Linked DNA regions of Homo sapiens. The protein of the gene in region 1 interacts with the protein of each later gene in a pairwise test. Each region holds a gene or a part of one and is shown in the gene's direction. Other genes may lie near its edges.

What was found.
Region 2: the proteins of MECOM (region 1) and CEP128 interact in a two-hybrid assay, tested with the Homo sapiens proteins (one study listed by BioGRID).
Region 3: the proteins of MECOM (region 1) and NIBAN2 interact in a two-hybrid assay, tested with the Homo sapiens proteins (one study listed by BioGRID).
Region 4: the proteins of MECOM (region 1) and TRIM26 interact in a two-hybrid assay, tested with the Homo sapiens proteins (one study listed by BioGRID).
Region 5: the proteins of MECOM (region 1) and EPB41L3 interact in a two-hybrid assay, tested with the Homo sapiens proteins (one study listed by BioGRID).
Region 6: the proteins of MECOM (region 1) and TRIM58 interact in a two-hybrid assay, tested with the Homo sapiens proteins (one study listed by BioGRID).
Region 7: the proteins of MECOM (region 1) and HSF2 interact in a two-hybrid assay, tested with the Homo sapiens proteins (one study listed by BioGRID).

The regions. Positions count from the first base shown.
Region 1 is NC_000003.12:169,653,713-169,657,212, reverse strand, and holds part of MECOM (histone-lysine N-methyltransferase MECOM), read left to right. Parts: intron 1-3,500.
Region 2 is NC_000014.9:80,784,739-80,788,238, reverse strand, and holds part of CEP128 (centrosomal protein of 128 kDa), read left to right. Parts: intron 1-2,693; coding exon 2,694-3,344; exon of another isoform or gene 3,345-3,500.
Region 3 is NC_000009.12:127,507,459-127,510,073, reverse strand, and holds part of NIBAN2 (protein Niban 2), read left to right. Parts: intron 1-942; coding exon 943-1,098; intron 1,099-1,535; coding exon 1,536-1,652; intron 1,653-1,873; coding exon 1,874-1,981; intron 1,982-2,095; coding exon 2,096-2,207; intron 2,208-2,615. UniProt on the Homo sapiens protein: May play a role in apoptosis suppression. May promote melanoma cell invasion in vitro.
Region 4 is NC_000006.12:30,203,407-30,206,906, reverse strand, and holds part of TRIM26 (tripartite motif-containing protein 26), read left to right. Parts: intron 1-2,141; 5' UTR 2,142-2,251; intron 2,252-3,500.
Region 5 is NC_000018.10:5,537,498-5,540,997, reverse strand, and holds part of EPB41L3 (band 4.1-like protein 3), read left to right. Parts: intron 1-573; exon of another isoform or gene 574-658; intron 659-3,500. UniProt on the Homo sapiens protein: Tumor suppressor that inhibits cell proliferation and promotes apoptosis. Modulates the activity of protein arginine N-methyltransferases, including PRMT3 and PRMT5.
Region 6 is NC_000001.11:247,863,687-247,867,186, forward strand, and holds part of TRIM58 (E3 ubiquitin-protein ligase TRIM58), read left to right. Parts: intron 1-1,018; coding exon 1,019-1,249; intron 1,250-3,500. UniProt on the Homo sapiens protein: E3 ubiquitin ligase induced during late erythropoiesis. Directly binds and ubiquitinates the intermediate chain of the microtubule motor dynein (DYNC1LI1/DYNC1LI2), stimulating the degradation of the dynein holoprotein complex.
Region 7 is NC_000006.12:122,402,652-122,406,151, forward strand, and holds part of HSF2 (heat shock factor protein 2), read left to right. Parts: intron 1-3,500. UniProt on the Homo sapiens protein: DNA-binding protein that specifically binds heat shock promoter elements (HSE) and activates transcription. In higher eukaryotes, HSF is unable to bind to the HSE unless the cells are heat shocked.

The DNA.
Region 1 (3,500 bases):
GACTGTGTAACTTTAGTGTATTTAGATATTTGTTAATTTTGTCTACTGGGTCTACAGGGGACAGAGAGCCTCACTGATGTGTTCTAAATGGTTGTCTGAATACAGATCCCCCTTCCCTATTGGTATCAGTAGGTCTAGAACTCTGCCCAGATGGTTTTGTTTCTAGGCATTTTTTATCTGTGTATGTCCTTGTAAGTTGGAAGGAGTAAATATATAGATATTATCTTCATATTTCACTTTGGTGAAAAAACCACAAGTCCTATGGTTTTACTAATTATTCAGCATTTAAACATCCATACAGCATTTTTATCTATATAGAAACATAGTTGTTCTAAGAAGTACATACTGAATTTTTTTTAAGGCAAGTTCTAGTCCTTTTGAAAGTGTGGACCACATCTGGAGTTGTTAGGAAAGAAAGTGGAATTTACTCTAATTTATGTGTATAAAATACAATGTTATTAGAAAGAATGGGATTTGAAAGGGCACACGGTAAAGCCCATAACATTTAGTGGGTAATGTGGAGAACTCAAAGCCAAGACAAAAATACCATCAACCCATGCAAACCCTAAAATAGATTACAATGACCTCAGTCATTTTCATTTTCAAAAATAATAGCCATGATTAAAATGGGGGAGTGTTTTGCTTGGAACCATACTCTTCGGCATTATTATAAAAGCTGTTTTGTGGTTAAAGAACTGTTTCATTATGGAAAAAAAGGGAACTGAATTTTTAATCAAATTCCTGACTCTTCAAAAGCACTCATTCTTGAATTAATTCTTATTTTGATTTTAGTTATTATTCTTATTCATTAGCAAACGTGCTTTTGGCTTGTATATTCAGCCAAATTCTTGACTACTGACTTTTATAACAATTCTAAAGGAGAAATTTATTTAGAAAAGAGATTTTATTATGTTAGTAAACATGTGTGTAGGGGTCATTAACTACACAACATAAAGAACCAACATTTCCTAAACCTTGTTCAAGAACCTGCCTAAATGAATTAGTTGTATATGTCAAGGTTGTTCAAATGATGACATTTATGAATGAAAGTGCTTGTACATGGCAGTTTTTGTGCTTTGGCGATGGGCAGGCTTACACAACAAATATCAATGTGCTAGGCCCTGTGCACGGGCAAACCATGTTCCCTACTCTCACAAGCATTACAAACGTGCACATCAGTGTTTGAATCTGGGCATGATCCCTGATTGAAAAGTCAGGTCCTCTTCAAGTTATTGAATGCCTCTGAGGCCTAGCATCTTTACTTGTGAAGTGGGAGTAATAATACTACCCTCCTTGGGCTGCTGTGAGAGTTAATTGGTATAATGTGTGCAAAGTACCTAAGGCACATGCTCAATAAATCTTAGTGGGTTTCAGTTTCCTTATAATTTATCAGTTAAATTTTCTGAAGAAGAAACATCCTTTTTTTTCCCCTCCTGTTTAATGTTTTTATCCAGTTTCCTTTTTAAAAGTATTTACATGTCTACGGTAAGCATTTTGTATGTCTTCTCAATAAATTATGCCCTCAGAATGAAGGGAAGTCATATCTAAAATTTGGGCACATTAAAACTGTCCATACCAAGCCAAACTAGGCAGTAAATTTGTTCTGAAAACTTGAGCATCTTCCTTTGCCCTTTATTTGGAGTCGGGGTGAGGGGGATGTGTAAATAAAATGATTGAGATTTCAACTTTTCCCCACAGATTTTGGCATTGTATAGCCACACAGCCCTAATTTAGTTTTGCATACTCTCTAGTTATCATTAGGCAATAATCCCTCCTGAATGAAAATTTGACTTTTAGTGGATTGAGTTTGTAAGTCACTTTACTACTGCAGCTGGGTTGCTCCTCTTTAAATGAATGGATTAGACTAGAGCAGAGCCTGTAAATTTGCAGGTACCATAAATGAGTGAAGCAAGGTGGGTATAAGCCTTAAGCTCTCTCCTATTTTTATTTAATTTTTTGACACCCAGCCTTTGTATTTCAGAACAAGAGGGAGTGGCGGGGATGGTGGGAAACTGGCAGTTCAAGACTCCTCTAAAGGTGGCAGCTTCTTCTCAGCTCCTGCTCACTGTTACCATTTGGGCAAGGGGGTTCAGGGCCGCCAGGTCTTCCACTTTTTAAGAGAAGCCACAAATCTGGGTTTTTATGTAAGTTTTCTCTACTTTATGAAATGTTGATTCAATTTTAAAAAATTCTGCAGGCCCAACCAAACACCTCTGCCTGCAATATATAGTTTGTAGGGTTTGCAATGTCCAGATTCATTGATTTCCAAGGGTGCTTCAAAGTTTCATTTTATGGTGATATCCAGAATGGTTTTTGAATATTACCTTGTGTTTTTAAGATCTATATCTTCTTCCCCACCTCAAGTTAATATGTGTGTGTGTGTGTGTGTGTGTGTGTGTTTTGATAGGTGGAAGTACTTATTACAGAATCTGATATCTGGCCATTTATCTGGAAAAATAGTCTTTTACAACTATGTTGTGTCTTTCTTTCCCTCCATGCCGTTTCATCATTAATTGGCTTAAGAAAATAAACTGAAGCATTCCCTCCCCTTCTTGTATCCACTGGCCACCATTCTTTCTTATTTCTCACTAAACCCAATTCTTTGATTTGTGGGCTGGGGGTTGGGCAGTAAATCATTAGGAGACAGTCATCTGTGGTTTTCCACAGTGGGAGAAGGAGTCATTTGGCTACTGTGGATATTCAGAGGAAGAGTTCACCCCTGCCCTCCTAGGAGAGTCCAGATGTAATGTCCTGTACATCTGTAACTGAGGAACCCAACTGATTTTTAAGACCTGAACCTAGGATGGAGAAATAAGTTTTTAAGGGATGAACGTCTTATTTGAGCAGAGTGGCTTTCCATGTAGGAAGGTCATATATGTTCGGGTAACATGTGAAAATAAACATACTTTGCTCTGTTTATTATCATGAGTTGTATTTCTAGCAGAAGTGTTAGGTGAATAACAGGTAAAATTAAGTCTTTAGGATTAAAAATTGTGGTGATGGAATGTCAACACAATGGACTCTCCTGATAAAGATTTGACTGAGCACTTTATAATATCTAACTCAATACTGTAGTCATGGGACTTGTCAGTGAATACATATCACTATCAGTGAATATTGTTGGGAATATCATCGGATAATGCAATTCTTTTAGAGGAAGATTCTGAGTAGTGATGAACCATGCATATAAGCATTATCAATGAGTTATCACCTCATTCTCAATCTTTATACCTGATGCTGAATCTCAAATTCCTTAGCTTGGCTGTTGAGGGGCTCTACTTTTGTGCCAGAAGAATGTGGTGACTCCTGAGTACAGGTCGGGAGTGAGATTTGCCTGGGTTTGAATCCTGGCTCCACCATTTACTAGCTGGTTGAAATGAAGGCAAGCCATGTAACCTTTTTGTGCCTCAGTTTCCTTACTTGTGGACTAGAGGTACTTACCTCATGTGAGGATTTGATCAAACTAATGCATTTAGAGTGCCTTAAATAGAATAAGAGTT
Region 2 (3,500 bases), on another chromosome or scaffold:
AGATAAAGGCTATTCATTTGAGGGCCCTGGGTATGTCCAGGGTATTGAGATGACAGTAAAGACACTGACATTTTCAGACTCAGAGAAAATGCCTAGACAGAATCTTAAGCTGTGGCTACTAGGCAAGCAATTAACCAGAATCAGATCGACAGAGCTTAGTTTTTAGTATCTGTATTGCCAAAGAAATTCCAAACTTGACTCACATGGTCTGTGACTGTCTGCCCTCTGGCTGTCACCCTTGTCAGGAATTGATGTGAAGCTTGGAACACTGCAAAGACAGCAAAAGATGGAGAGTTATAGAGTAGCAGAGCCTGAGCTTTGAGGGATTCTTCTTGAACCATCCTGTCTCTGGACTTACTGTTATGTGTGAAAAAGAAATATCTTTGCTTTTTAATCCAACTTCAGGAAGATATAATATTTCATAATTAAAGACACTTTACATGGTATGACTTCATTATGAAAATATGATTTTAATCCTCAGCACTGCCTATAAGTCTCTCAACTCATGCCAAGGGGGCTAAGTTATCTGCTTCAAACATATATCACTATATTGAAGGTCCCTACCCTCGCTCAGTCCCTCCCATGCTATCTTTACAGCCCAAATTTGATTCTATCAGTTCTTGTGTTCTCCAGTTTGGTAAGTAGAATGACCCTCCCCAAAGAAGTCACACTAATTTCTGGAACCAATGAATATGATAAGACATTACTCCTGTGATCACATTATCTGGATGGGCCTAATCTTATCACATGAGCCCTCAATAGAAGGTTTTTTTTTTTCTGGCTATTGAGAGAAGGGGACGTCAGAGAGAGTTGGAGCTTCGGAAGGATTCATCAAGCTGTTCAAGCTTTGAAGATGGCAGAGTCCATGAGCCAAGGAACAAGGTTGGCTTCTAGAAGTTCAGAATAATCGCTGACCAAAAGCTAGCAAGGAAATGGGGACCCAAAGTCCTACAACTGTATGGAAACAAGTTGTATCAGAAACCTGAATGAGCTTGGACATGGATTCTCCTCAGAACCTCCAGACAAGCGCCCTGGCCAGCTGATACATTGATTTTAGTCTTAGGAGACCTTAAGCTGAATACCTTGCTTGGCCTTTCAACCTATTGGAAGCAGTGAGATAAAAAATGTGTATTTTAAGCTACTAAGTCTGTTGGAAATTGTTATGAAGCAATAGAAAAATAATACATCTACCCTTAGGCTCATCTATATTTCTCCTACCTTACATTCTTTCGGAAGTGAACTCCTTCATCTGTGTTCCAGAGTTCCTTCTCCTCAGTTATCCCGTCTTTTCACAGTAGAGACGGGGTCTTGCTATGTTGCCCAGGCTGGTCTTGAACTCCTGAGCCAAAGCTATCTTCCCGCCTGAGCCTTCCAAATAGCTGGGATTATAGGGTGTGCCACTGGGCCTGGCTCTTTTTACAGTTTTGATCACTACCTTGCATAAACACCTCCCTGAGACCCTAATACCTCCTCGAACTTAAATTCTACTCCAACTTTTTGTTTCCCCTTTCTCACTAATCTTCATCACAGTCTTATGAAATAGCTATTATTATTTTCTCTAGTAAGAGAAATGATTTCCCCGAGGCCATAGAATTGCCCGTGATTGAACTGAAAATCAAATTCACTTCTTTCTGGTCAGAGCTCAACTGCTTATTCATCTCCTTTTGTTAGTTCTCATGTTATCTTTGTGCTCTTTCTTTCTTTCAGTTAAAACTGAGCAGGATTGGGGAAACTTTTTTTTGGAGTGATTGACTCATTAAATTTTTGTCATAAATTGTTTTACACTGAAGTATAAAATGTGAAGTGTAGAAATGTCTTGCAAATATTTGCATTTTAACTCATTATTTGTAATTCTGAAATGAGTCTTAATTGGTTCCTTTTTTTCCCTCCTGTTTCACGGAGATTATCTTTGGTGCCAGTGTTGTATAGAAAACAATCTTGGCTCCCTTGGCTGCCCATTATTTTATTTGCAATGATTAGGTGGTGAGAATTAGAGGCCAGAAGAGTTAACCCTTGGCCTCTGTCCTTCCATGTAAATCTTAGAGAGGCTGGCATAGAATGATGGACTTCTAGGCCCTTGACTTTTCTCTTGAGCCCTTTCCCAACCTTTCCTGACTTAATCTCATTTCTTTGTGGGCTTCCAGGCTCCCAGTTGCATATTGGTGAGTTTTCGTCACCATTGATATTTTAAAAATAATGGCTGAATGTACCGTAAACTTTCTTGTATTGTATCTGCATGCTTCCCTATATTATTTTCCATCTCTGTTTTGGGGTTTCTCCTTTTTAAAAGTGTATCATTGGAATGTACATCAGTATTATTTTAGGTAATAGTGTATTATTTCAACCTGTAGTAAGTTTTCTTTATAATGAGAGTCTTTGCTTTCCCCATTTGTTTGCTCAATTTTATCTTACATTTAAATAATTATTTGTGACCATGGATTGAAATAAGTTTTGGTGATGAAAATTTGAAATACATATTTCAGTGTGTTGCTATTTCAGGACAATTATATATTCCCCCCCACCTTTCTGGCCTAAAAGTATTTTTATTAAAAAATGGGAAAAATACAAAAATTATTTGATGAATTTTTTTTTTCCTTGTGGGTTAAACATTGTTTTGCTGACTGGCAGAGTCTATGGTGAATTTTACAGTAACTTTTATTTTTTTCTTTTGCTTCATGTTCTTAACCTGATAGATTTTAAAAGAAAAGGATGAATTGAAAACCCAGCTGTATGCAGCATTACAACAAATAGAGAATCTTCGAAAGGAATTGAATGATGTCCTAACAAAGCGTGCCCTTCAGGAGGAGGAGCTTCACTCCAAGGAGGAGAAATTACGTGATATTAAGTCTCATCAAGCTGACCTTGAATTGGAAGTTAAGAATTCCCTGGATACCATCCATAGACTGGAGAGCGAATTGAAAAAGCAGAGTAAGATCCAAAGCCAGATGAAAGTTGAGAAAGCTCACTTGGAGGAAGAAATTGCAGAGCTCAAGAAGAGCCAGGCCCAGGACAAAGCTAAACTTCTTGAGATGCAAGAGTCCATCAAGGACCTGAGTGCCATCCGAGCAGATCTTGCTAATAAATTGGCTGAGGAAGAGAGAGCCAAGAAAGCAGTGCTTAAGGACCTTTCTGACCTCACTGCACAGGCAAAATCCAGGGATGAAGAAACAGCTACAATCATCACACAGTTAAAGCTGGAACGAGATGTGCACCAGAGGGAGCTGAAAGATCTCACATCATCATTGCAGAGTGTGAAAACAAAACACGAACAGAATATCCAGGAGCTTATGAAGCACTTTAAGAAAGAAAAGAGTGAGGCTGAGAATCATATCAGGACTCTGAAGGTACCTCTGCTAAATTATCCTGATGATACTGAAGGAATTTTTCTGGTGGCTCATGAAGTTAATAAAGCGTAAACTTTTAGAGATCATTCTGTATTCCCAAGCACTGAAGGGAAGATAAAACCAACAATAAAGAGGCTTATTCATGCCTGTTCGGCC
Region 3 (2,615 bases), on another chromosome or scaffold:
CGTGACTCCGGGCAGCCGTTCCCCTCCAAGGCCGTCCCTGTAGACGGGGAGGGGCTGCTGGGGACTAGGGGCAGAGGCTGTGAGGCCAGGGCTGTTGGAGTCCTCGTGGGGCCTGCAGTTTGAGGAAAGAGGGAACATTAGCTCCCGGCCACCAGCCTTTAGAAACCAAGAGTGGTGCTAAAATAGAAAAGAATTTAACAGAAGAGAGGGAAGGAGGGAAGGAGAGGAGGGGAGAGGGAAGGAGGGAAGGAGAGGAGGGAAGGAGGGAAGGAGAGGAGGGAAGGAGGGAAGGAGAGGAGGGGAGAGGGAAGGGCGGGCTTCAGGTGGAGTAATGAGATTGATAAGGAAGAATTCACAAGTCACGCGCCCTCCAAATGGAGACAGCCGTTGCCCTTACTTGACCTCAGTTATCTGGCTCTCGGGGTGAACGTCCTTCCACAGTCTCCATCTTGGGCTGGCTGCCCGGAGCCCGCATAGTTGTCAGATTGAATTTATCCTGTATCTTAGTTTCCTCCTTTATACTCTGAAATGGGGAGTCCACAGACCATAATAATCCCAGAATCTGAGACCTGGAGAGGACCTTGGAGAGCAGGAAAGCTCTCTCCCAATTTTGAAGCTGAGGAAACTGAGGCTCAGAGAGGGTGAATGACTTGCCCAAGGTCACCCAGCACCTCAGAAGGGATGAGTGCCTTCTGCCGGCACCGAGGCTGCCTCTCCACAGCGCTGTGCCACTGGACTGCGCCCTCCATGCCTTCAGAGCCTCATGCTTCTGTCCTGGGCCCTCCTGGGTTTACCTTTGTGGCCATGAGCACCAGGTGGCCATCCCTGGTAGCAGGCGCCAGCCCCAGGGCCTGGACTTCGAGGACCCAGGCAAAGTGTGTGGGGGGTGCTGCCTGGCCACAGGGCGGCCCTGCTCAGCCCCCGCGGCCCCGGCCCCTGCAGTACATGGAGAAGCTGTCCCGGCTGGCGTACCACCCCCTGAAGATGCAGAGCTGCTATGAGAAGATGGAGTCGCTGCGACTGGACGGGCTGCAGCAGCGATTTGATGTGTCCAGCACGTCCGTGTTCAAGCAGCGAGCCCAGATCCACATGCGGGAGGTAGACCCGAGGCTACGACCCCCACCCCACACCCTGTCCACTGCCTTCCACAGGCCCCCTCGCCCAGGGGGTCCCTTCTGCTCCGTCCCGTCATGCCATAGCCACGCTTGCCTGGCACGCTCTCTCCTCCTCTGCTTGGAACATCTGTGCCTCTGCCCACCTGGCTAATTCTGACTCACTTCCCAGGTCTCAGCTTAGAGACCCCTTCCTCCAGGAAGCTCTCCTTGCGCCCCCAGGCCCCTTCCCATATTTCCTGTTGCCTTGAGGCAGGGACTTGCTCCAGCGTGCAGAGCTGTGAGTGGGCATAGACCGCTTGCCATTCCTCCCTGGCAGGCCTCGGGGTGGGGGGCTGGTTGAGGATGAGGACCCCTCAGCGGCACCCAGGAAGGGGCTGTGGTCACCCTGGGGGCTTCACATGTCCGCGGTATGCCCTGCAGCAAATGGACAATGCCGTGTATACGTTCGAGACCCTCCTGCACCAGGAGCTGGGGAAGGGGCCCACCAAGGAGGAGCTGTGCAAGTCCATCCAGCGGGTCCTGGAGCGGGTGCTGAAGGTGAGCGGCCCCACGCCCTGCCCCGGACCGTCCTAGGCGAGGCCGAGCCCCGAGCCTCATCCCCGGCCACCACCAGGATTGCTGTCCCTGCAAGGAGGCGCCATGGTCCTCTTGTGCGGATGAGGACTCGGAGGCTTGGGTCAGACCACTGGCCTCGTCCTACCCTCAGGGCCAATGGAGCCCACTGACCTGCAGACCCCCGACCCCCTTGTTCCCTGCAGAAATACGACTACGACAGCAGCTCTGTGCGGAAGAGGTTCTTCCGGGAGGCGCTGCTGCAGATCAGCATCCCGTTCCTGCTCAAGAAGCTGGCCCCTACCTGCAAGTCGGTGAGCAGCCCCCACCTGCTCCAGCCGTTTGGGCCCTAAGTTGGGGGATGGAGCCCACAGGCCTCCCTCTACCCTTGGCCCTGACCTCTCATCTCTGCCGCCCCACCCGGGCAGGAGCTGCCCCGGTTCCAGGAGCTGATCTTCGAGGACTTTGCCAGGTTCATCCTGGTGGAAAACACGTACGAGGAGGTGGTGCTGCAGACCGTCATGAAGGACATCCTGCAGGGTGGGTGCCGTCCCGGGGTGGGGACTGTTGCCAGGAGGATGCTGGGGGCGCAGCTGAGAAGTGGTGGCAGCTGAGGGGGTCAGCTAAGGCTCAAAGAAAAGCCCAGACTTGCACCTGGGGTCTGGGTGAAGCCCACTCTTCGCTGTGTGGCCTCCGGAGCAGCCTTAGCCTTGCGTCTCTGTGCTTTAGTTTCTTCTCGCGTCCTTGGCTTTGCTGGGAGGGTCAGAGGAGTGATTAGATGACATGTGGTCAGCAGCCTGGGCCTGGAGATAGCATCACGGCCTTGCTGCTTTCAGCAACGAGGCCTGGAATGAGTCACATCCCAACCACAGACCCCCAAGGCGGGATGAGACGGGTCTTCTTTGAGCAGAGTCCAGCACAGGGGCGGCTGTGGGATCAGTGCTGTGT
Region 4 (3,500 bases), on another chromosome or scaffold:
CCAGCCAGCTCTGCTGCTGGGCAAATGAGTCCGAGGCTCTGGCACTCACTGTCCTCCTCTGTAAATAAGGGGTTCTAGTGATTCACAGTCCTGGATAGACTTTAGAATCTCCTGGGAAGTTTGTTTTTTAATACCAGAGCCTGGGCCACCTCTGGAGATCCTAAGTCAGTTGGTCTAGGTATGTTTTGAAGACTCACCAGTTTGAAGACTACAAATCTGATGTGTAGTCAAGGTTTGAACCATTCCACAAGATGATAAAGGATTCCTTCCTATATTTGGTGCAAAGCACCAAGTGACACTTAGGAATATTTTAGACAAGAGAGCTTGGTTCATGATTCAACATTAGACAGATATTCTGGCACAAATATGAAGAACCCTCAATTTTCCCCTGTGGGTCAGCCACAAGACCAGGGCAATTTAACGCCTTGTCTCATCCACCTCCCAGCTGGCTGCTACCTCCTGCCCCTCTTTGAGCCCTGTGGGGATTTCTAGCGTTCAGAGCCCTGGTAGTTTTTGTGGCCTGCACTGTGCTTCAGAGCACCACTGATGCTCGGCTCCGTGGGGAAAGTAAGCCAAGTGTGACCACAAGAACGCATCATCCACAGTCACTGGGATCTCCTGGGACAGCCTGGGATCCAGGCCTTTGGCCTGGCCAGTAGGGGTGCAGTCACTCCTAGTATGCACATCCAGATCACTTGCTTTTTGCCCCGAATTCTGGCCTCTCCAGGTTTGTTAGAGGTGTCTCACGGAAGTTTACCCCATGGAGAGTTTGCTTATCTCAGATTAAAATATGGGGATTAATCTGGGACCCAGGAGCCCTTAAATGGAGTACCCACAGGGAATGGAGCTCTAGGCTAAGTGCTTTGGGATTACAGGTGCTTTGCTCTTGTTTGGAGGTCCAGACATATGCTTGAGAAGCAGCTTGGGATACTCAAGAGAGGCCTGAACTGGTACCCTGGAGGCCAGGATGAAAACCCAGGCCTCTCCATTTACTTTCTTGGGCCCCAGAGTCCACATTTGGGATTCACTGTCTACCAGGGCACCTCTCTGGGTGGCATCTAGGAGCCGGAGGCAGGCCAGAGTTTCACCCAGGCTGGAGTGCAGTGGCGCAGTCATGGCTGTCTGCAGCCTCAACTTCCCGGGCTCGGGAGATCCTCCTGCCTCAACTTCCTAAGTAGCTGGAACTATAGGCATGTGCCATCGCACCCAGCTAATTCAGCTAATTTCTTTTTTTGGAGACAATGTCTCACTATATTACCCAGGCTGGTCTCAAACTCCTGGGCTCAGGCAGTCCTCCTGCCTTAGCCTCCCACAGTGCTGGAATTACAGGCACAAGCCCCCGTGCCCGGCTTTCAGCTAGTTTTTGTAGCTCATAGTGATTATTCTTGGAGCCAATAATCGTGCATGCATCCACATCTTGAAATTACATGGTGTCACCTTGACCAGTCTGTTGACATATGCAGATTAGGTATTTATGAGATCCAGAGACTTATAGGGGAGGGGTGGATTTCAGGGAAAAGGGAACCTCTTAGAGAAAGGTAGGGAGTGTCTGCAGTTCTGCCTGTGAGGAGGGTACCAGGACATTGCAGGGCTTGTTTGTTGCATCTTCCTGGTTCTATAGAATTGCAGCTAGCTTCTGGTTTATTTTTTCATTTTTATTTTTTGAGATGGAGTTTTGCTCTTGTTGCCCAGGCTGGAGTGCAATTGGCGTGATCTCAGCTCACTGCAACCTCCGCCTCCTGGGTTCAAGCGATTCTCCTGCCTCAGCCTGCCCAGTAGCTGGGATTATAGGCATGCGCCACCACACCTGGCTAATTTTGTATTGTTAGTAGAGATGGGGTTTCTCCTTGTTGGTCAGGCTGGTCTCAAACTCCCGATCTCAGGTGATCCACCCGCCTCTGCCTCCCAGAGTGCTAGGATTACAGGCAGAAGCCACCGCGCCCGGCCGCTTCTGGTTTATTGAAGAGACAGAAAAATACCCCCTCACCCCCAGCAGGGATGTGTGACCTCTGGTGCAAGGGAGTTCATGAAGTGACTTCTTCAGGTTCAGAATTCTCATCTGAGTAAAGGGAGTGGGGGTGGAGTGGGTCATCTCTGAGGTTTTTTTTTTTTGGCTCTGATTTTGGTTTCTGTCTGCCCAGGAGTCAGGAATGGAGAGAAGGGTAATGGTTTTACCTCTTATTGTGGAAACCTGTTGAGATCACAGAGAATATACTGACGGCATAAAAGGGCAGAACCATAGCAGGGTGCGGTAAGTTGGGGAAGAGTTTTTGGAGAGGGTGAATTTTGCATTGGACCTGACAGAATTGTGTATGGGGAAGGGGAGCGGTTATTCTGGTCTGCTCACATCTCTCATACTCAACCTCATTTCTCCTAATTCTGAAATCTTGAGATCCTCTATCACTAAGAAGGAAAACTACTGTCCAACAGGGACACTTTATTGCTCACCCCATATGTGAAAGTTTGTCATAGCTAAGGCTAGGGTGCTTTTGGTCAGTATCAGCAGAATATATGCCCCCTTTCTTTTGTCAGCATTACTCCGCTTACAAAGCCCTTCCATGTAGATGACCTCATCTGAGCTTCCTAACAAAGGAGCTGGTATTAGACCCCATTTTACAGTGTGCCTGGGTAGGGAAGAGAGTGTAGTGGATTGAGCAGAGGCCTTGGCACCAGACACTGCTTCCTAGCCATGTGCTCTTGGGCAAGTTGCTTAACCCTGCTGAGCCTCAGTTTCCTCAGAAGGAGTCTGTATAAGCAAGGGAAGGGATTGGTCATAGAAGTGGTACTGTGTTTCATTTATCTGGTTATGGCAGACTCTCAAAAACAAATGGTTCTATACAACTAACATTGTCTGCAATTCCCCTGAATCCATTCACTTGTTCAGTAAATGTGTATTGAGCTTCTACAAGGTGTCAAGCACCATGATCTCTGTATCAGTGATTTAACCATTTTTGATGGTTACTACAGACCTCTTTAAGAATGTGATAGAAAACTGTAGCTCCCTCCCCAGAAAACTTTTCTAGCTTTTTATTTTGCTTTGCAGTGAGCCAAGATAGTTCCACTGCACTCGGGGGACAGAGTAAGACCCTGTCTCAAAAAAAAAAAAAAGAAAGGAACCATTTCAAATTAGGTGGGAGACATGGAGCTCTAAATACTACAGCATCCATTGCCTAGAAATACAGGTATTCTCAGCCGGGCGCGGTGGCTCACACCTGTAATCCCAGCACTTTGGGAAGCCAAGGCAGGTGGATCACCTGAGGTCAGGAGTTTGAGACCAGCCTGGCCAACCTGGTGAAACCCCGTCTCTACTAAAACTACAAAAAATTAGCCGGATGTGGTGGTGGGCACCTGTAATCCCAGCTACTAGGGAGGCTGAGGCAGGAGAATCGCTTGAACCTGGCAAGCGAAGGTTGTAGTGAGCCAGATTGCGCCATTGCACTCCAGCCTGGGCAACAAGAGAAAAACTCCATCTCAAAAATAAATAAATATATTAATAAATA
Region 5 (3,500 bases), on another chromosome or scaffold:
TTCTCCTGCCTCAGCCTCCCGAGTAGCTGGGACTACAGGCGCCCGCCACCACGCCCGGCTAATTTTTTTGTATTTTTGGTAGAGAAGGGGTTTCACTGTGTTAGCCAGGATGGTCTCGATCTCCTGACCTCGTGATCCACCCGTCTCGGCCTCCCAAAGTGCTGGGATTACAGGCGTGAGCCACCGCGCCCGGCGGAGAGAGGGTTCTTGAGTAATCTACCCTGGCCGTCTTTAATTCCCATAGTCTCCCCTAAGTACCCCATCAGTTTTCCGTGAAATATAGACTCACCATTGAAACCTATGAATCAAATTTATCTTTAGCACCACTTCAGTTAGAGAGATCCTTAATCGTGCAATCGCTGCATCTATTTCTTTCAAACGGCTAGCTAGCTGCTGATTTGTTGGGAATTCATCAGGCACTCAGCCCGGGAGGGTTCTGCTGTTATTTGATTTGCCTTGGCTGTGGGGAATTCTGTGCTCAGAAGCAAGGACTGGAGCAGTGAAGTCATTGTCCTGCCTGGTGTTGTGACATCACTATGGCTCAAAGGAAACAAGGGTGGGGCAGGCAAAACCAGACCATCTGAAGCATCTTGCTGGCTTTAAAACTTTGCCTGATCAATCAATGAGACTCCTTTCTCAAGTTGAACTGCATTGCGAGGTATTGTTTGGAGAATTGAAAGGTGTAAATGAATATAAGACTGCATGGGAAAATGTGTCTCCAAGAGTAAGGAAGGAGACGTTTTTTGTTTGTTTGTTTTTTGTGAAATAGTAGAAAGCACTGAATATTCCTTTTGTAGAGAAAACTGTAATTTTTTAGAAGGGCCATTTACAAAATTAAAGAACAAGAAAAATGAGTATATTTTTATTTATATATTGAGGCAACATATTTCTTACTGTTCTTTGTACTAAAACAGCATTCTTTTTAAATTCTTGATTTAGGTTATTAGTAATGTCTTTTAAAAAAAGTATGTGGTCTCTCTAAAGATGCAATTTACTTATTGGGTAGGCAATGTTCTCATTTATTTTTAAGTGATGTGATTGCAGTTGGCAATAGGAAAAAATGGAAAAAGGTGTTTCATAAGTAGAAGATATCTGCAGTGATTTGGAGTAATTGATTTCCATTTCCATTTTTGTTTTATGTACTAATTATTTTATAATTTAGCATTTTAATCCTAATTTAGAATTCTAGTGCAGAGATGATCAGAGACATATTTCACCCAAATTAGTGTTGAATAAATGATAAGACTGAAATTCGGAAGCAATAAAGTATATTTCATGTTTTCCTTTCTGAATTTATAGTAATATCAGCATAAAAAATGAAGAACCACAGAATGGCTGCAGATGTTCCTTGTCTTTTCCATGACTGACATTTTTCATGTGAGTGTATTATGTATGTAGGAGCTCTGGGCAGTTCTTTCTTAACTATGTAGCAATTCCAGAGCACAGTTTCAAAGCATAAAGAAGAAACAAATTGGGAAGAATGGCACAAGAAGACAAGTTGAAATTAGATGCCAGAACTGCAGATTACTTGGTTGAAATGTCTTTGGTGTTGCATTTTTAGTCCTTGCGATGATTGGTTAAATTGCATACTTTGGAATTGTAAGCTTCTATTAGCACCAATTCTTTTGTAATTTGCAGTACAGAGAAAAAGCTGACAACTTAATTTTTAGATTGCTGACATTTTGATACATTGTTCTTATAACCCTGCCTTACAAACTAAAAACAGAGAGAGAGAGAGAGAGAGAGAGAAAGCAGAAAGGTCTATATTAGACCTAGAAAACAAATGTAATATTTAACCTGCCTTGAGTATATATTTTTCTCTCCAGTTATATTGGGTGGGTGCTTGATGAGGATAGGGAGTTATTTCTCTTCAGGTTTCTTTCCCAAACCAAGTAAAGGTCTAGACACTTAAAGCATTCAGTAAATACTTACGAAATTGTATAAAAAATGGGGCCATTTGTAACTTACGCTTTACTACCAAAAAAAAAAAAAAAAAAAAAAATCTTGGAGAAAGCTTAAAAAGCACTGCTGCTTTATTTAAAAATGAGAATTACCAGACTCATGTATGTAGTCATTATTTTTAATGGCGTGGTCCTCTTCATAACAAGGTTGTTACCTCTGTCTGTAGCTCAAATTGGTAGATCCTAGAGGTTTTGCCATATCAGGGAAGAGAATTCTGCAGGTACCAAGAGAAAAGAAGAATGGTTTCTTTGAGGGAAGAACTGCAGGGAGTCGGTTTCCTTTCCTGCCAGCTCTAATTGGTGTCATGGAGGACATCAGTGTGGAGGGTGTCCTCTGAAGAGGGGAGGGATCAAATGGTAGGGTGACAAAAGCTGAAAAGGATTAGTGCTGGGAGATGATATTGATCTCCTAGCATTCAACTAAAGAGAGGAAAACTATTTTCTGTTTTAGCTCTCTCTTCTTTGGTCATTTTTGTACATGCCTGTGTTTACATCCTCAAATAGCGAGTTTCTTTGTATTTGATTCAAGCCCCAAATTTCATCATTTCTAAAAGAAAGTTATTTTTTCACATTTAACATCTCTGAAATTGGGATATGTCTTACATGGCTCTCAGCCATGTTGCAGAGAAAAAGCTGGCAACTTAATTCATTGTTTGTGAATATGCATCAAAAATTGGACATTGGATGTTAGTGGATTGGAGAAAATCCTGGAGACAGTAATGGAGCACTCTTAAGTGATACATTTCTAGTGCTCGTGGTGACCCAAGTTGATATTGTGTGGAAAAGCATAGACAGCAGTAACTCTTAGTTGACGTGCAATTTGGTAGAGTTGGATTCTGAATATGTAAGAATTTTTGGGAACACCTTGGCCAATCTATTTTGTTTATATTTTCTTTATGCGTTGAATAACTCAATCAGAGTTCTTTAGATAAGAAGAAAATGAAAATTCCAGTTTCTAAAAATGTGTGAGTCATAGCTTAATTGGCAGAGTGCTATACAACATGATGTTATCTCTTATAATCAGTGTCATGAATCTTATGAAATATGGTTTATCATTTGGCTATGCAATTTTTTGAAATGTACTTTATAATATGTAATGCTTATTTTACACTGTCCATTCTGTGTATCAGTGATTGTTTTTCTATGTATTATTGATTGTTTCCTATAAAAGGATCCTTTTATAGGGAAAATCTATTGAAAATTCTTCATTTCCCATTTTGACTTTCCATTTTGGCCTTGGGAAGATGACTGGATTTTGATAGAGACTCTCAATTAGTCATTGAGAAGACATTCCAGATAGGACATTCCAGAAGTCAAGAGACCTGCCTTTAGCTGGAATATAGCCTGTATGCTGGGGAGTAATGGGAGGTGCATCTAAGTAGGGAGTGTGAGGCCTGATTGTGGAAGGTTTTTGGATATGAGACTAAGGGATATTTGGGGCTTTGCTAGGTAGTGGGGAGTTATTGAAAGTGGTTGAGTAGGGAAGAAGAATATTTTTTCTGGTGATAAGTGTAGGATGAGTTGGAAGAATAGGAATCT
Region 6 (3,500 bases), on another chromosome or scaffold:
TTGAGGGAATAATTTACCTCTCGTACTCAGCTTAAAGTTAGTTTTCGATATACTTATCTTGAGAGAAGAAAATCTAGAAACTAAGCCTGGGACGAAGTATGTTCCTTAGGTCTATTCAGAAACTGAAGACGTGAGATTCAGGTAGAAATTGGGATTAATTCTCTGACGTGAACTCTGAAATCAGTGGCCTGAGCATCACTTAGTTCTTTCTTGGCTTTGTAGAGAATGTTAGGCTTATGGTTGTGTTCACTATTACCATATTATGAAACAGCATTCATATTTTCTCATCTCTCAGCCTTTTCTTATTCAAACAAACATTTCTTCATCATTCAGTTGTTTCTAGTGGTTCTAGCGACTGATCTAGTAGTAAATAGTAACTTCTGCTGTGTGACTGCTCTATGCTAATCACTGTTCTTGTAGTTTAATAGATATTTAGCTGTAATCCACATACTCCTCTTTTTCCCCACATTTTTTAAGAGATGGAGTCTTGCTCTGTTACCCAGGCTGAAGTGCAGTGGTGCAATCACAGCTTACTGCAGCCTCGAGCTCTTAGACAAGTGATCCTCCCACCTCAGCCTTGTGGGTAGCTGGGACTACAGGGCTTACCACCATGCCTGGTCGGTTCATTTTAATTTTTTTAGAGATGGGGTCGCATTTTGCTTTGTTACCCAGGCTGGTCTTGAACTCCTGACCTCAAGCACTCCTCTTGCCTCGACCTCCCCAAAACCTCACATTTTGTATATGGTACTGAAACTTCAGTATAAAAGTGCCTTGCCCCCAAGCCTGTGGCAAAATGGGAACTCCAGTCCAACAGTATTTTTTAAACTTAATTTGAAAACTCTCCTGGGCTACTTCTTATATGAATGGACTCCAGTCTGTGCATGTTGTTAGGATGCAACCAGTGAGTCCACAGAGTTACGGAGCCCGGGGAAGTCTGGACATTACCTTCTCCAGCACTGTCCTGTACATGGCTGCTGGAGGCCAAGCACTGACGATGTGATCCACGGTGTCACCTCAGGAGAAAGTGGAAATGCAGAGGCAGCGCTTCAGATTGGAGTTTGAGAAGCATCGTGGCTTTCTGGCCCAGGAGGAGCAACGGCAGCTGAGGCGGCTGGAGGCGGAGGAGCGAGCGACGCTGCAGAGACTGCGGGAGAGCAAGAGCCGGCTGGTCCAGCAGAGCAAGGCCCTGAAGGAGCTGGCGGATGAGCTGCAGGAGAGGTGCCAGCGCCCGGCCCTGGGTCTGCTGGAGGTGAGGCCGGGTGCCAGAAAAGCAGGCAGATGTGAGACTCAGGTGACAGAGACTAGTACAATGGCTTTCAGAGACAAACACTTTGGCGTTTATGTTCTTTAGGAAAAGGGCACCCTCAAATTTACTCAGAAGGCAGCTTAAACACCCTAGAATTTACTCAGAAGCCATTCCTGGCATCAGAATCATGAGATTCTAGAGAATCATATAGTTTGAGTCTGGCATGGTGGCACATGCCTGTAGTCCCAGTTATTAGGGAGGCTGAGACAGGAGGATCGCTTGGGCCAAGGAAATCGAGACCTTCCTGGGCAACATAGCAAGACCCTGTCTCAAAAAACAAACAAACAGCATATAGTTTGTTTTAAGGACTAAAGAATTCTTAAAATTAATGATTTCTGAAAACTTAAACAGCTAGGGAAAGGACAAGCTACACTCTGCTGGCTGAGAAGTAATTCCTAAAACCTCAGAGTCAGTTTGTCCATGATAGCATTGCTGTTTTTTAGGGATGGCTAGCACAGAAAGTCTGCATAATACATTTCAGTGTCACTGGCCAGAAGGATGAATAATGATTTAAATTGTCCAGCTTGAAATTGTTATATTGGATTGTAAAGCAAACACTGATTTCCTGGCCCACATTGCATGCCCGTTCCAGGCATGGCGAGGAGGGATTACGTGGACTCCCGTGCAGCTTCCTCCCAGTCTGTTTGGGATTAGAGAGCAGAAAGACGAGTAAGAGTGAAAGGAAATCTTTGTTTTTAATCCTCTGTGAGGCATCATATCCCAAGTGAACAGGGAAAGCCAAAGTTGTTGATAGATCCATGTTTTCTTGGTAGAACCAATGGCAACAGAAATTTATCTGGACCGACTCCTATCTCCTCCCCAGTGACTCACGCAGGGGATTCTAAACTAAGTGATGCATGTTCTCATTTAAAAGCTGACCCACGGATTCCACCTTTTCTGACTCAGTTCTAGGCACTGAAAGTACCATGAATATAAATAATCCTATTAACTGTCTGTATAATATTTGCAAGTACAATGACTAAACAGGACTGATTATGAGGCAGGGGACCATTAGATGAATTTATAAAGCCATTTAATTTGTCTCATTTTATCTTATATATATTAAATTTATATTTTATTATTATTGCTATGTTCATTTCCTTGTTAGCAAACTAAGAGTCAGAAAGGAATTAATTTTCCAAATAGCAGAGAGCAAAATACAAGAACTTTGACGGTTTCTTTTCTTTTGTTTTTTTGAGACAGAGTCTCGCTCTGTTGCCCAGGCTGAGTGCAGGGTGCAGTGGTGTGATCTTGGCTCACTGCAACCTCTGTCTCCTTGGCTCAAGCGATTCTCCTGCCTCAGCCTCCTGAGTAGCTGGGATTACAGGCATGTGCCACCGCACCTGGCTAATTTTTTTTTTTGCGTTTTTACTAGAGATGGGGTTTTGCCATGTTGGCCAGGCTGGTCTTGAACTCCTAACCTTAGGTGATCCGCCCACTTTGGCCTCCCAAAGTGTTGGGATTAAAGGCGTGAGCCCCTGTGCCCGGCTTGACAATTTCAACAATAGTATTTATTGCTCTGCCTGCCTTGGCCTCCCAGAGTGCTGGGATTGTAGGCATGAGCCACCCCGCCTGGCATGGGAGGATATATTCTTAAATAAGGTATCTTATCTATCTATTTTTCTAAAAGGGCAGGATCTCACTCTGTCACTCACGCTGGAGTGCAGTGGCTCAATCATAGCTCACTGCAGCCTCAGTCTCCTAGGATCAGGTGATCCTTGTGCCTCAGCCTCCCGAGTAGCTGGGACTAAAGGTGTGCACCACCACGCCCAGCTAATTTAAAACAAATTTTTAGTAGAGATGAGGCTTGGTTGTGTTGCCCAGGCTGTATATTTTTATACTTTCCTTTCCCTTTCTTCCCTGGTACTAATAAGCTACATTTTACCCCTGAAGGCCAAGACCAAGGCCTGACATTCCCATACAGGGTAAAGCAAATTATTCCCCTGCTTTTATGTCATTAAAACTTATCTGACTGGCAACTGTTTTTAAGGGGAGAGGGGAAATGTATCCCAAATACAATTATTAATATAATAAATGTATCACAGATATATTTATTTAATAATCTACTTTGAGAAAATAATGTTACTAGTTATTAAAGGCTTCCTTTATTAATCTATTTAGATAACCTCCTCATAGGAATAGCTCTGGTACGTTGGTTCAGAGAATTAGGAATTTATAATTCCTATAAAGATAT
Region 7 (3,500 bases), on another chromosome or scaffold:
AAACGATTCTTCTGCCTCAGCGTCTCGAGTAGTTGTGATTACAGATGCGCACCACCATGCCTGGCTAATTTTTGTATTTTTAGTAGAGACAGTGTTTCACCATGTTGGCCAGGCAGTCTCAAACTCCTGACCTCAAGTGATCCACCCGTCTCGGCCTCCCAAAGTGTTGAGATTACAGGTGTGAGCCACCGGCGCCCAGGTACTCTCATCTTTTGAAAGTTGCTATTTATGGTGGTTTCTGGTTTCCTTCAAACTTGTGTTGTATTTCTGTTGAGGTAATTTAGCATTTATACTATGAAAATCATTGAGAACTTTTAGAAGAAGCAGTTGTTTTGGGAACCAGACAAGCTTTTGTGCAGTTTTTTTTTTCAATGGTGGAAAATAATTTATTTCTCTACCTTGAGTGTAAGGCAAGGGAAAAAAAACTCTTACCAATTGCGTTTTGGAAAACGCAGTTGGTAATATCTCTAGATAATATCTCTGGAGACGTACATAACTTTAATTTTCCTCGAAATTTGCAATATGACAAAATTGAAAAGGGAAATAATACCTCTCACCATTAAATACAAGAATATAATAATCTGAACAATTGAAATTATACTTAAATATGTTATTGACTCTAAAATAATAGAAATGCCTTAATTCCAGACAGTCTTTAAGAAAGCATAATGTGGCTAGGCGTGGTGGCTCATGCCTGTAATCCCAGCACTTTGGGAGGCCAAGATGGGCAGGTTGCTTGAGCCCAGGAGTTTGAGACCAGCCTGGGCAACATGGTGAAACCCTGTCTCTACAAAAAAATACAGAAAGTAGCCAGGTATGGTGGCGTGCATCTTTAGTCCCAGCTACTCAGGAGGCTGAAGAGGGGAGATGGCTTGAGCCCATGAGGCAGAGGTTGCAATGAGCTGAGATCACACTACTGCAAGCCAGCCTGAACAACAGAACGAAATCCTGTCTCAAAACAACAACAACAAAAAACAGAAAGAAAAGAAAGTATGTTTTACATATTTCCATTTTCTCCTTACTCTTCTGAAAAACAAAAATGAAAAGTTTTCATTTTTTTTAACATTTCCTTTAAATGTAAAATTTTATATAACTGTTCTTGGCTTTGGTAGTCTGTTGTCAGAATCAAGTACAGAGATTGTACTGTCAGACGACCTAAAACTGTTTTAAATCTTAAGTGTCCTAAAGAGAGGGCACATATTAGCTTGGAAGCAACTGGTGAAACTTGATATTCAGAGACAAGGCCGTAGAGGTTAAATGAAGTTATATAGTAAAAAACAGCCTTTACGAGTTAATGAAATGTTACAACCAACGTATGCTGAAGTGAAGCAGTATAAAAGAAGGAAAGAACTGGAAGGTCATCCTTTTGTCAGTGTTGTTACCTTTGTCTCTGTTCTTCAGATTGTTTGAGAAAATGAAGTGATTTCCACCAAAGACTTCATACCCAGCTTTCCCCCCTTTTTGTGCCCTTTGGCATTCTCTGCTTCTCTATCCCCCTCATGTCAGCAGAGATGAATTAGGAAATAGGTAGGAGGGAGAGAGAGCAAAAACAGAATTTTTCCATTGTTTTCTAGCTGTTTTGGATGAATTTGAGCAGTAGGCCCTTGGACTTCACAAAGTGCTAGTATTGTTTTGAACATCCCAGCAACCATTGCATTATATTAGTATTTCAAAGTGAAAATAAGAAAGACTACAAGTGTGGGAGGATGGGGGTAAAATCCAACTTAGATGGACCTGCAGAAAAGTTGAAAGATTGATTTTCAAGTATTTTTATTTGTATATATAAGAGAAAGAATGAGCTAAAGACTCTAAAAGAGTAGCTGGTGCATATTAAAAATTATAGATTAGCAAGCCACAAATTTCTGTTCCGAAAAATGTTTTAAAGTAATGTGGCTGAAGTATTAGATTATTAGGAATATTTTGAGTGTTCTAACAAGAGTGCCAAAATTAATTTGGAGAGTAACGACTGTTTCTACTCTTTGGACTCTTGCCAACATTTGTGGGTAAGGTTTAAGGAGAAGGTGCCTATCTTTCCCACCTCACTCAGTAGTAGTTTTCTCATCCTTGTAAAATACTTAGGGAGATTCTGTGTTGTATTGCTTGAACCTCACAGGTTTAAAAGACAGGAAGGTGAATTTTTGCACTCAAAGAAGTTATTTACTAATTTTAGAATAGAGACTGAGGGAATACAATAAGCAGAGATAGAGTGATATGAATGAATAAGGAGTGTATGTGAGAGAGAGTGAGCACAGGTATAGCAAGAGATTATTGTCATCTCCCTATTTTATATAATCAAATAGTTGAAATTCTAAAAATTCAGTTTATTTGGCCAAAGATTAATTTAGTCAGTCACAGGTATTTGTTATGAATCTGTTATGACCTAATATTGTGCTAGGTATCAGGAATTCATTCAGTAGTGAACCAAAGTGCCTACCTTTATGGAGCTTACATTGAGTGGTGGATATCAATAAATAGTAAGCAAATACAAGCTGGGTATGGTGGTGCATGTCGTAGTTCTGGGTACTGGGGAGGCTGAGTTGGGAGGATTGCTTGAGCCCAGGAGTTTGAGGCTAGCTTGGGCAACATACTGAGACCCCTGTCTCTTAAAAAAAAAAAAAAAAAAAGTAAAAGCAAGCAAAACACAATCAATATAATTTCAGTTAGTGATAAATGCCTTTAAAAAACACCAAGATAAACTGTGTGTCGGTTAAGATGCAATCATAAGTCAGAAGCCACAGGTATTTTCAAGAGGGTAAGTTTAATAGAGTTACTGACTATATCAGGGAAATTAAAGAAAATTAAAAGAATACAAGAATAGTTTTAAGAAGCAGCCACTACTGATAGGGCTGAGATAGAGTGCCCAAGTAAGAACCTTTTTTGCCAAGGCTAAGATTCTTACCTTATTGGAAGGAATATGGCCATGACTCAGTAGCAGAGCAGTCACTGGTGTTGCTCTGGTGGAACTTACTGGAAATGCATCCTTCAAAACTTGGTGGGAAATATGCCCTCTAGGTCACGGGTTGGCAAACTGTAGTCCTTTTGCCAGCTGTTTTATAAAAAAAAGTTTAAATAGAACACAGCTATGCCCAATCTATTTACATATTGTCTGTATCTGCTTTCTCACTACAAAGGTAGAGTTATGATGTTATAATCTGCAAGCCTAATTTACTATTTGTCCCTTTAAGAAAAAGTTTATAAATCCCTGTTCTGGAGTACTCTAAAAAACTGTTTATGGGGAGATATCTTGTTAGAGATACTCTGCTTTGAAACCTCCCAAGGGAGAGGAAGCACCAGTGAAAGCTGATGGTCTTTGAGTGTTGCTGACCACCATTAATATCAAGAGCTAGGCACTGGAGAAGCTGCCTCCACTGCAGAAGCTTGCCAAGGATACATGAGTCAGGAACAAGAGCTCCTTTTTCTTGTAATATCTCTCTTTTATCCCCTGCTGACAGAACTTAACATCATGGCACCTAGAAAAAGAAAGATATTTATTTAAGGAA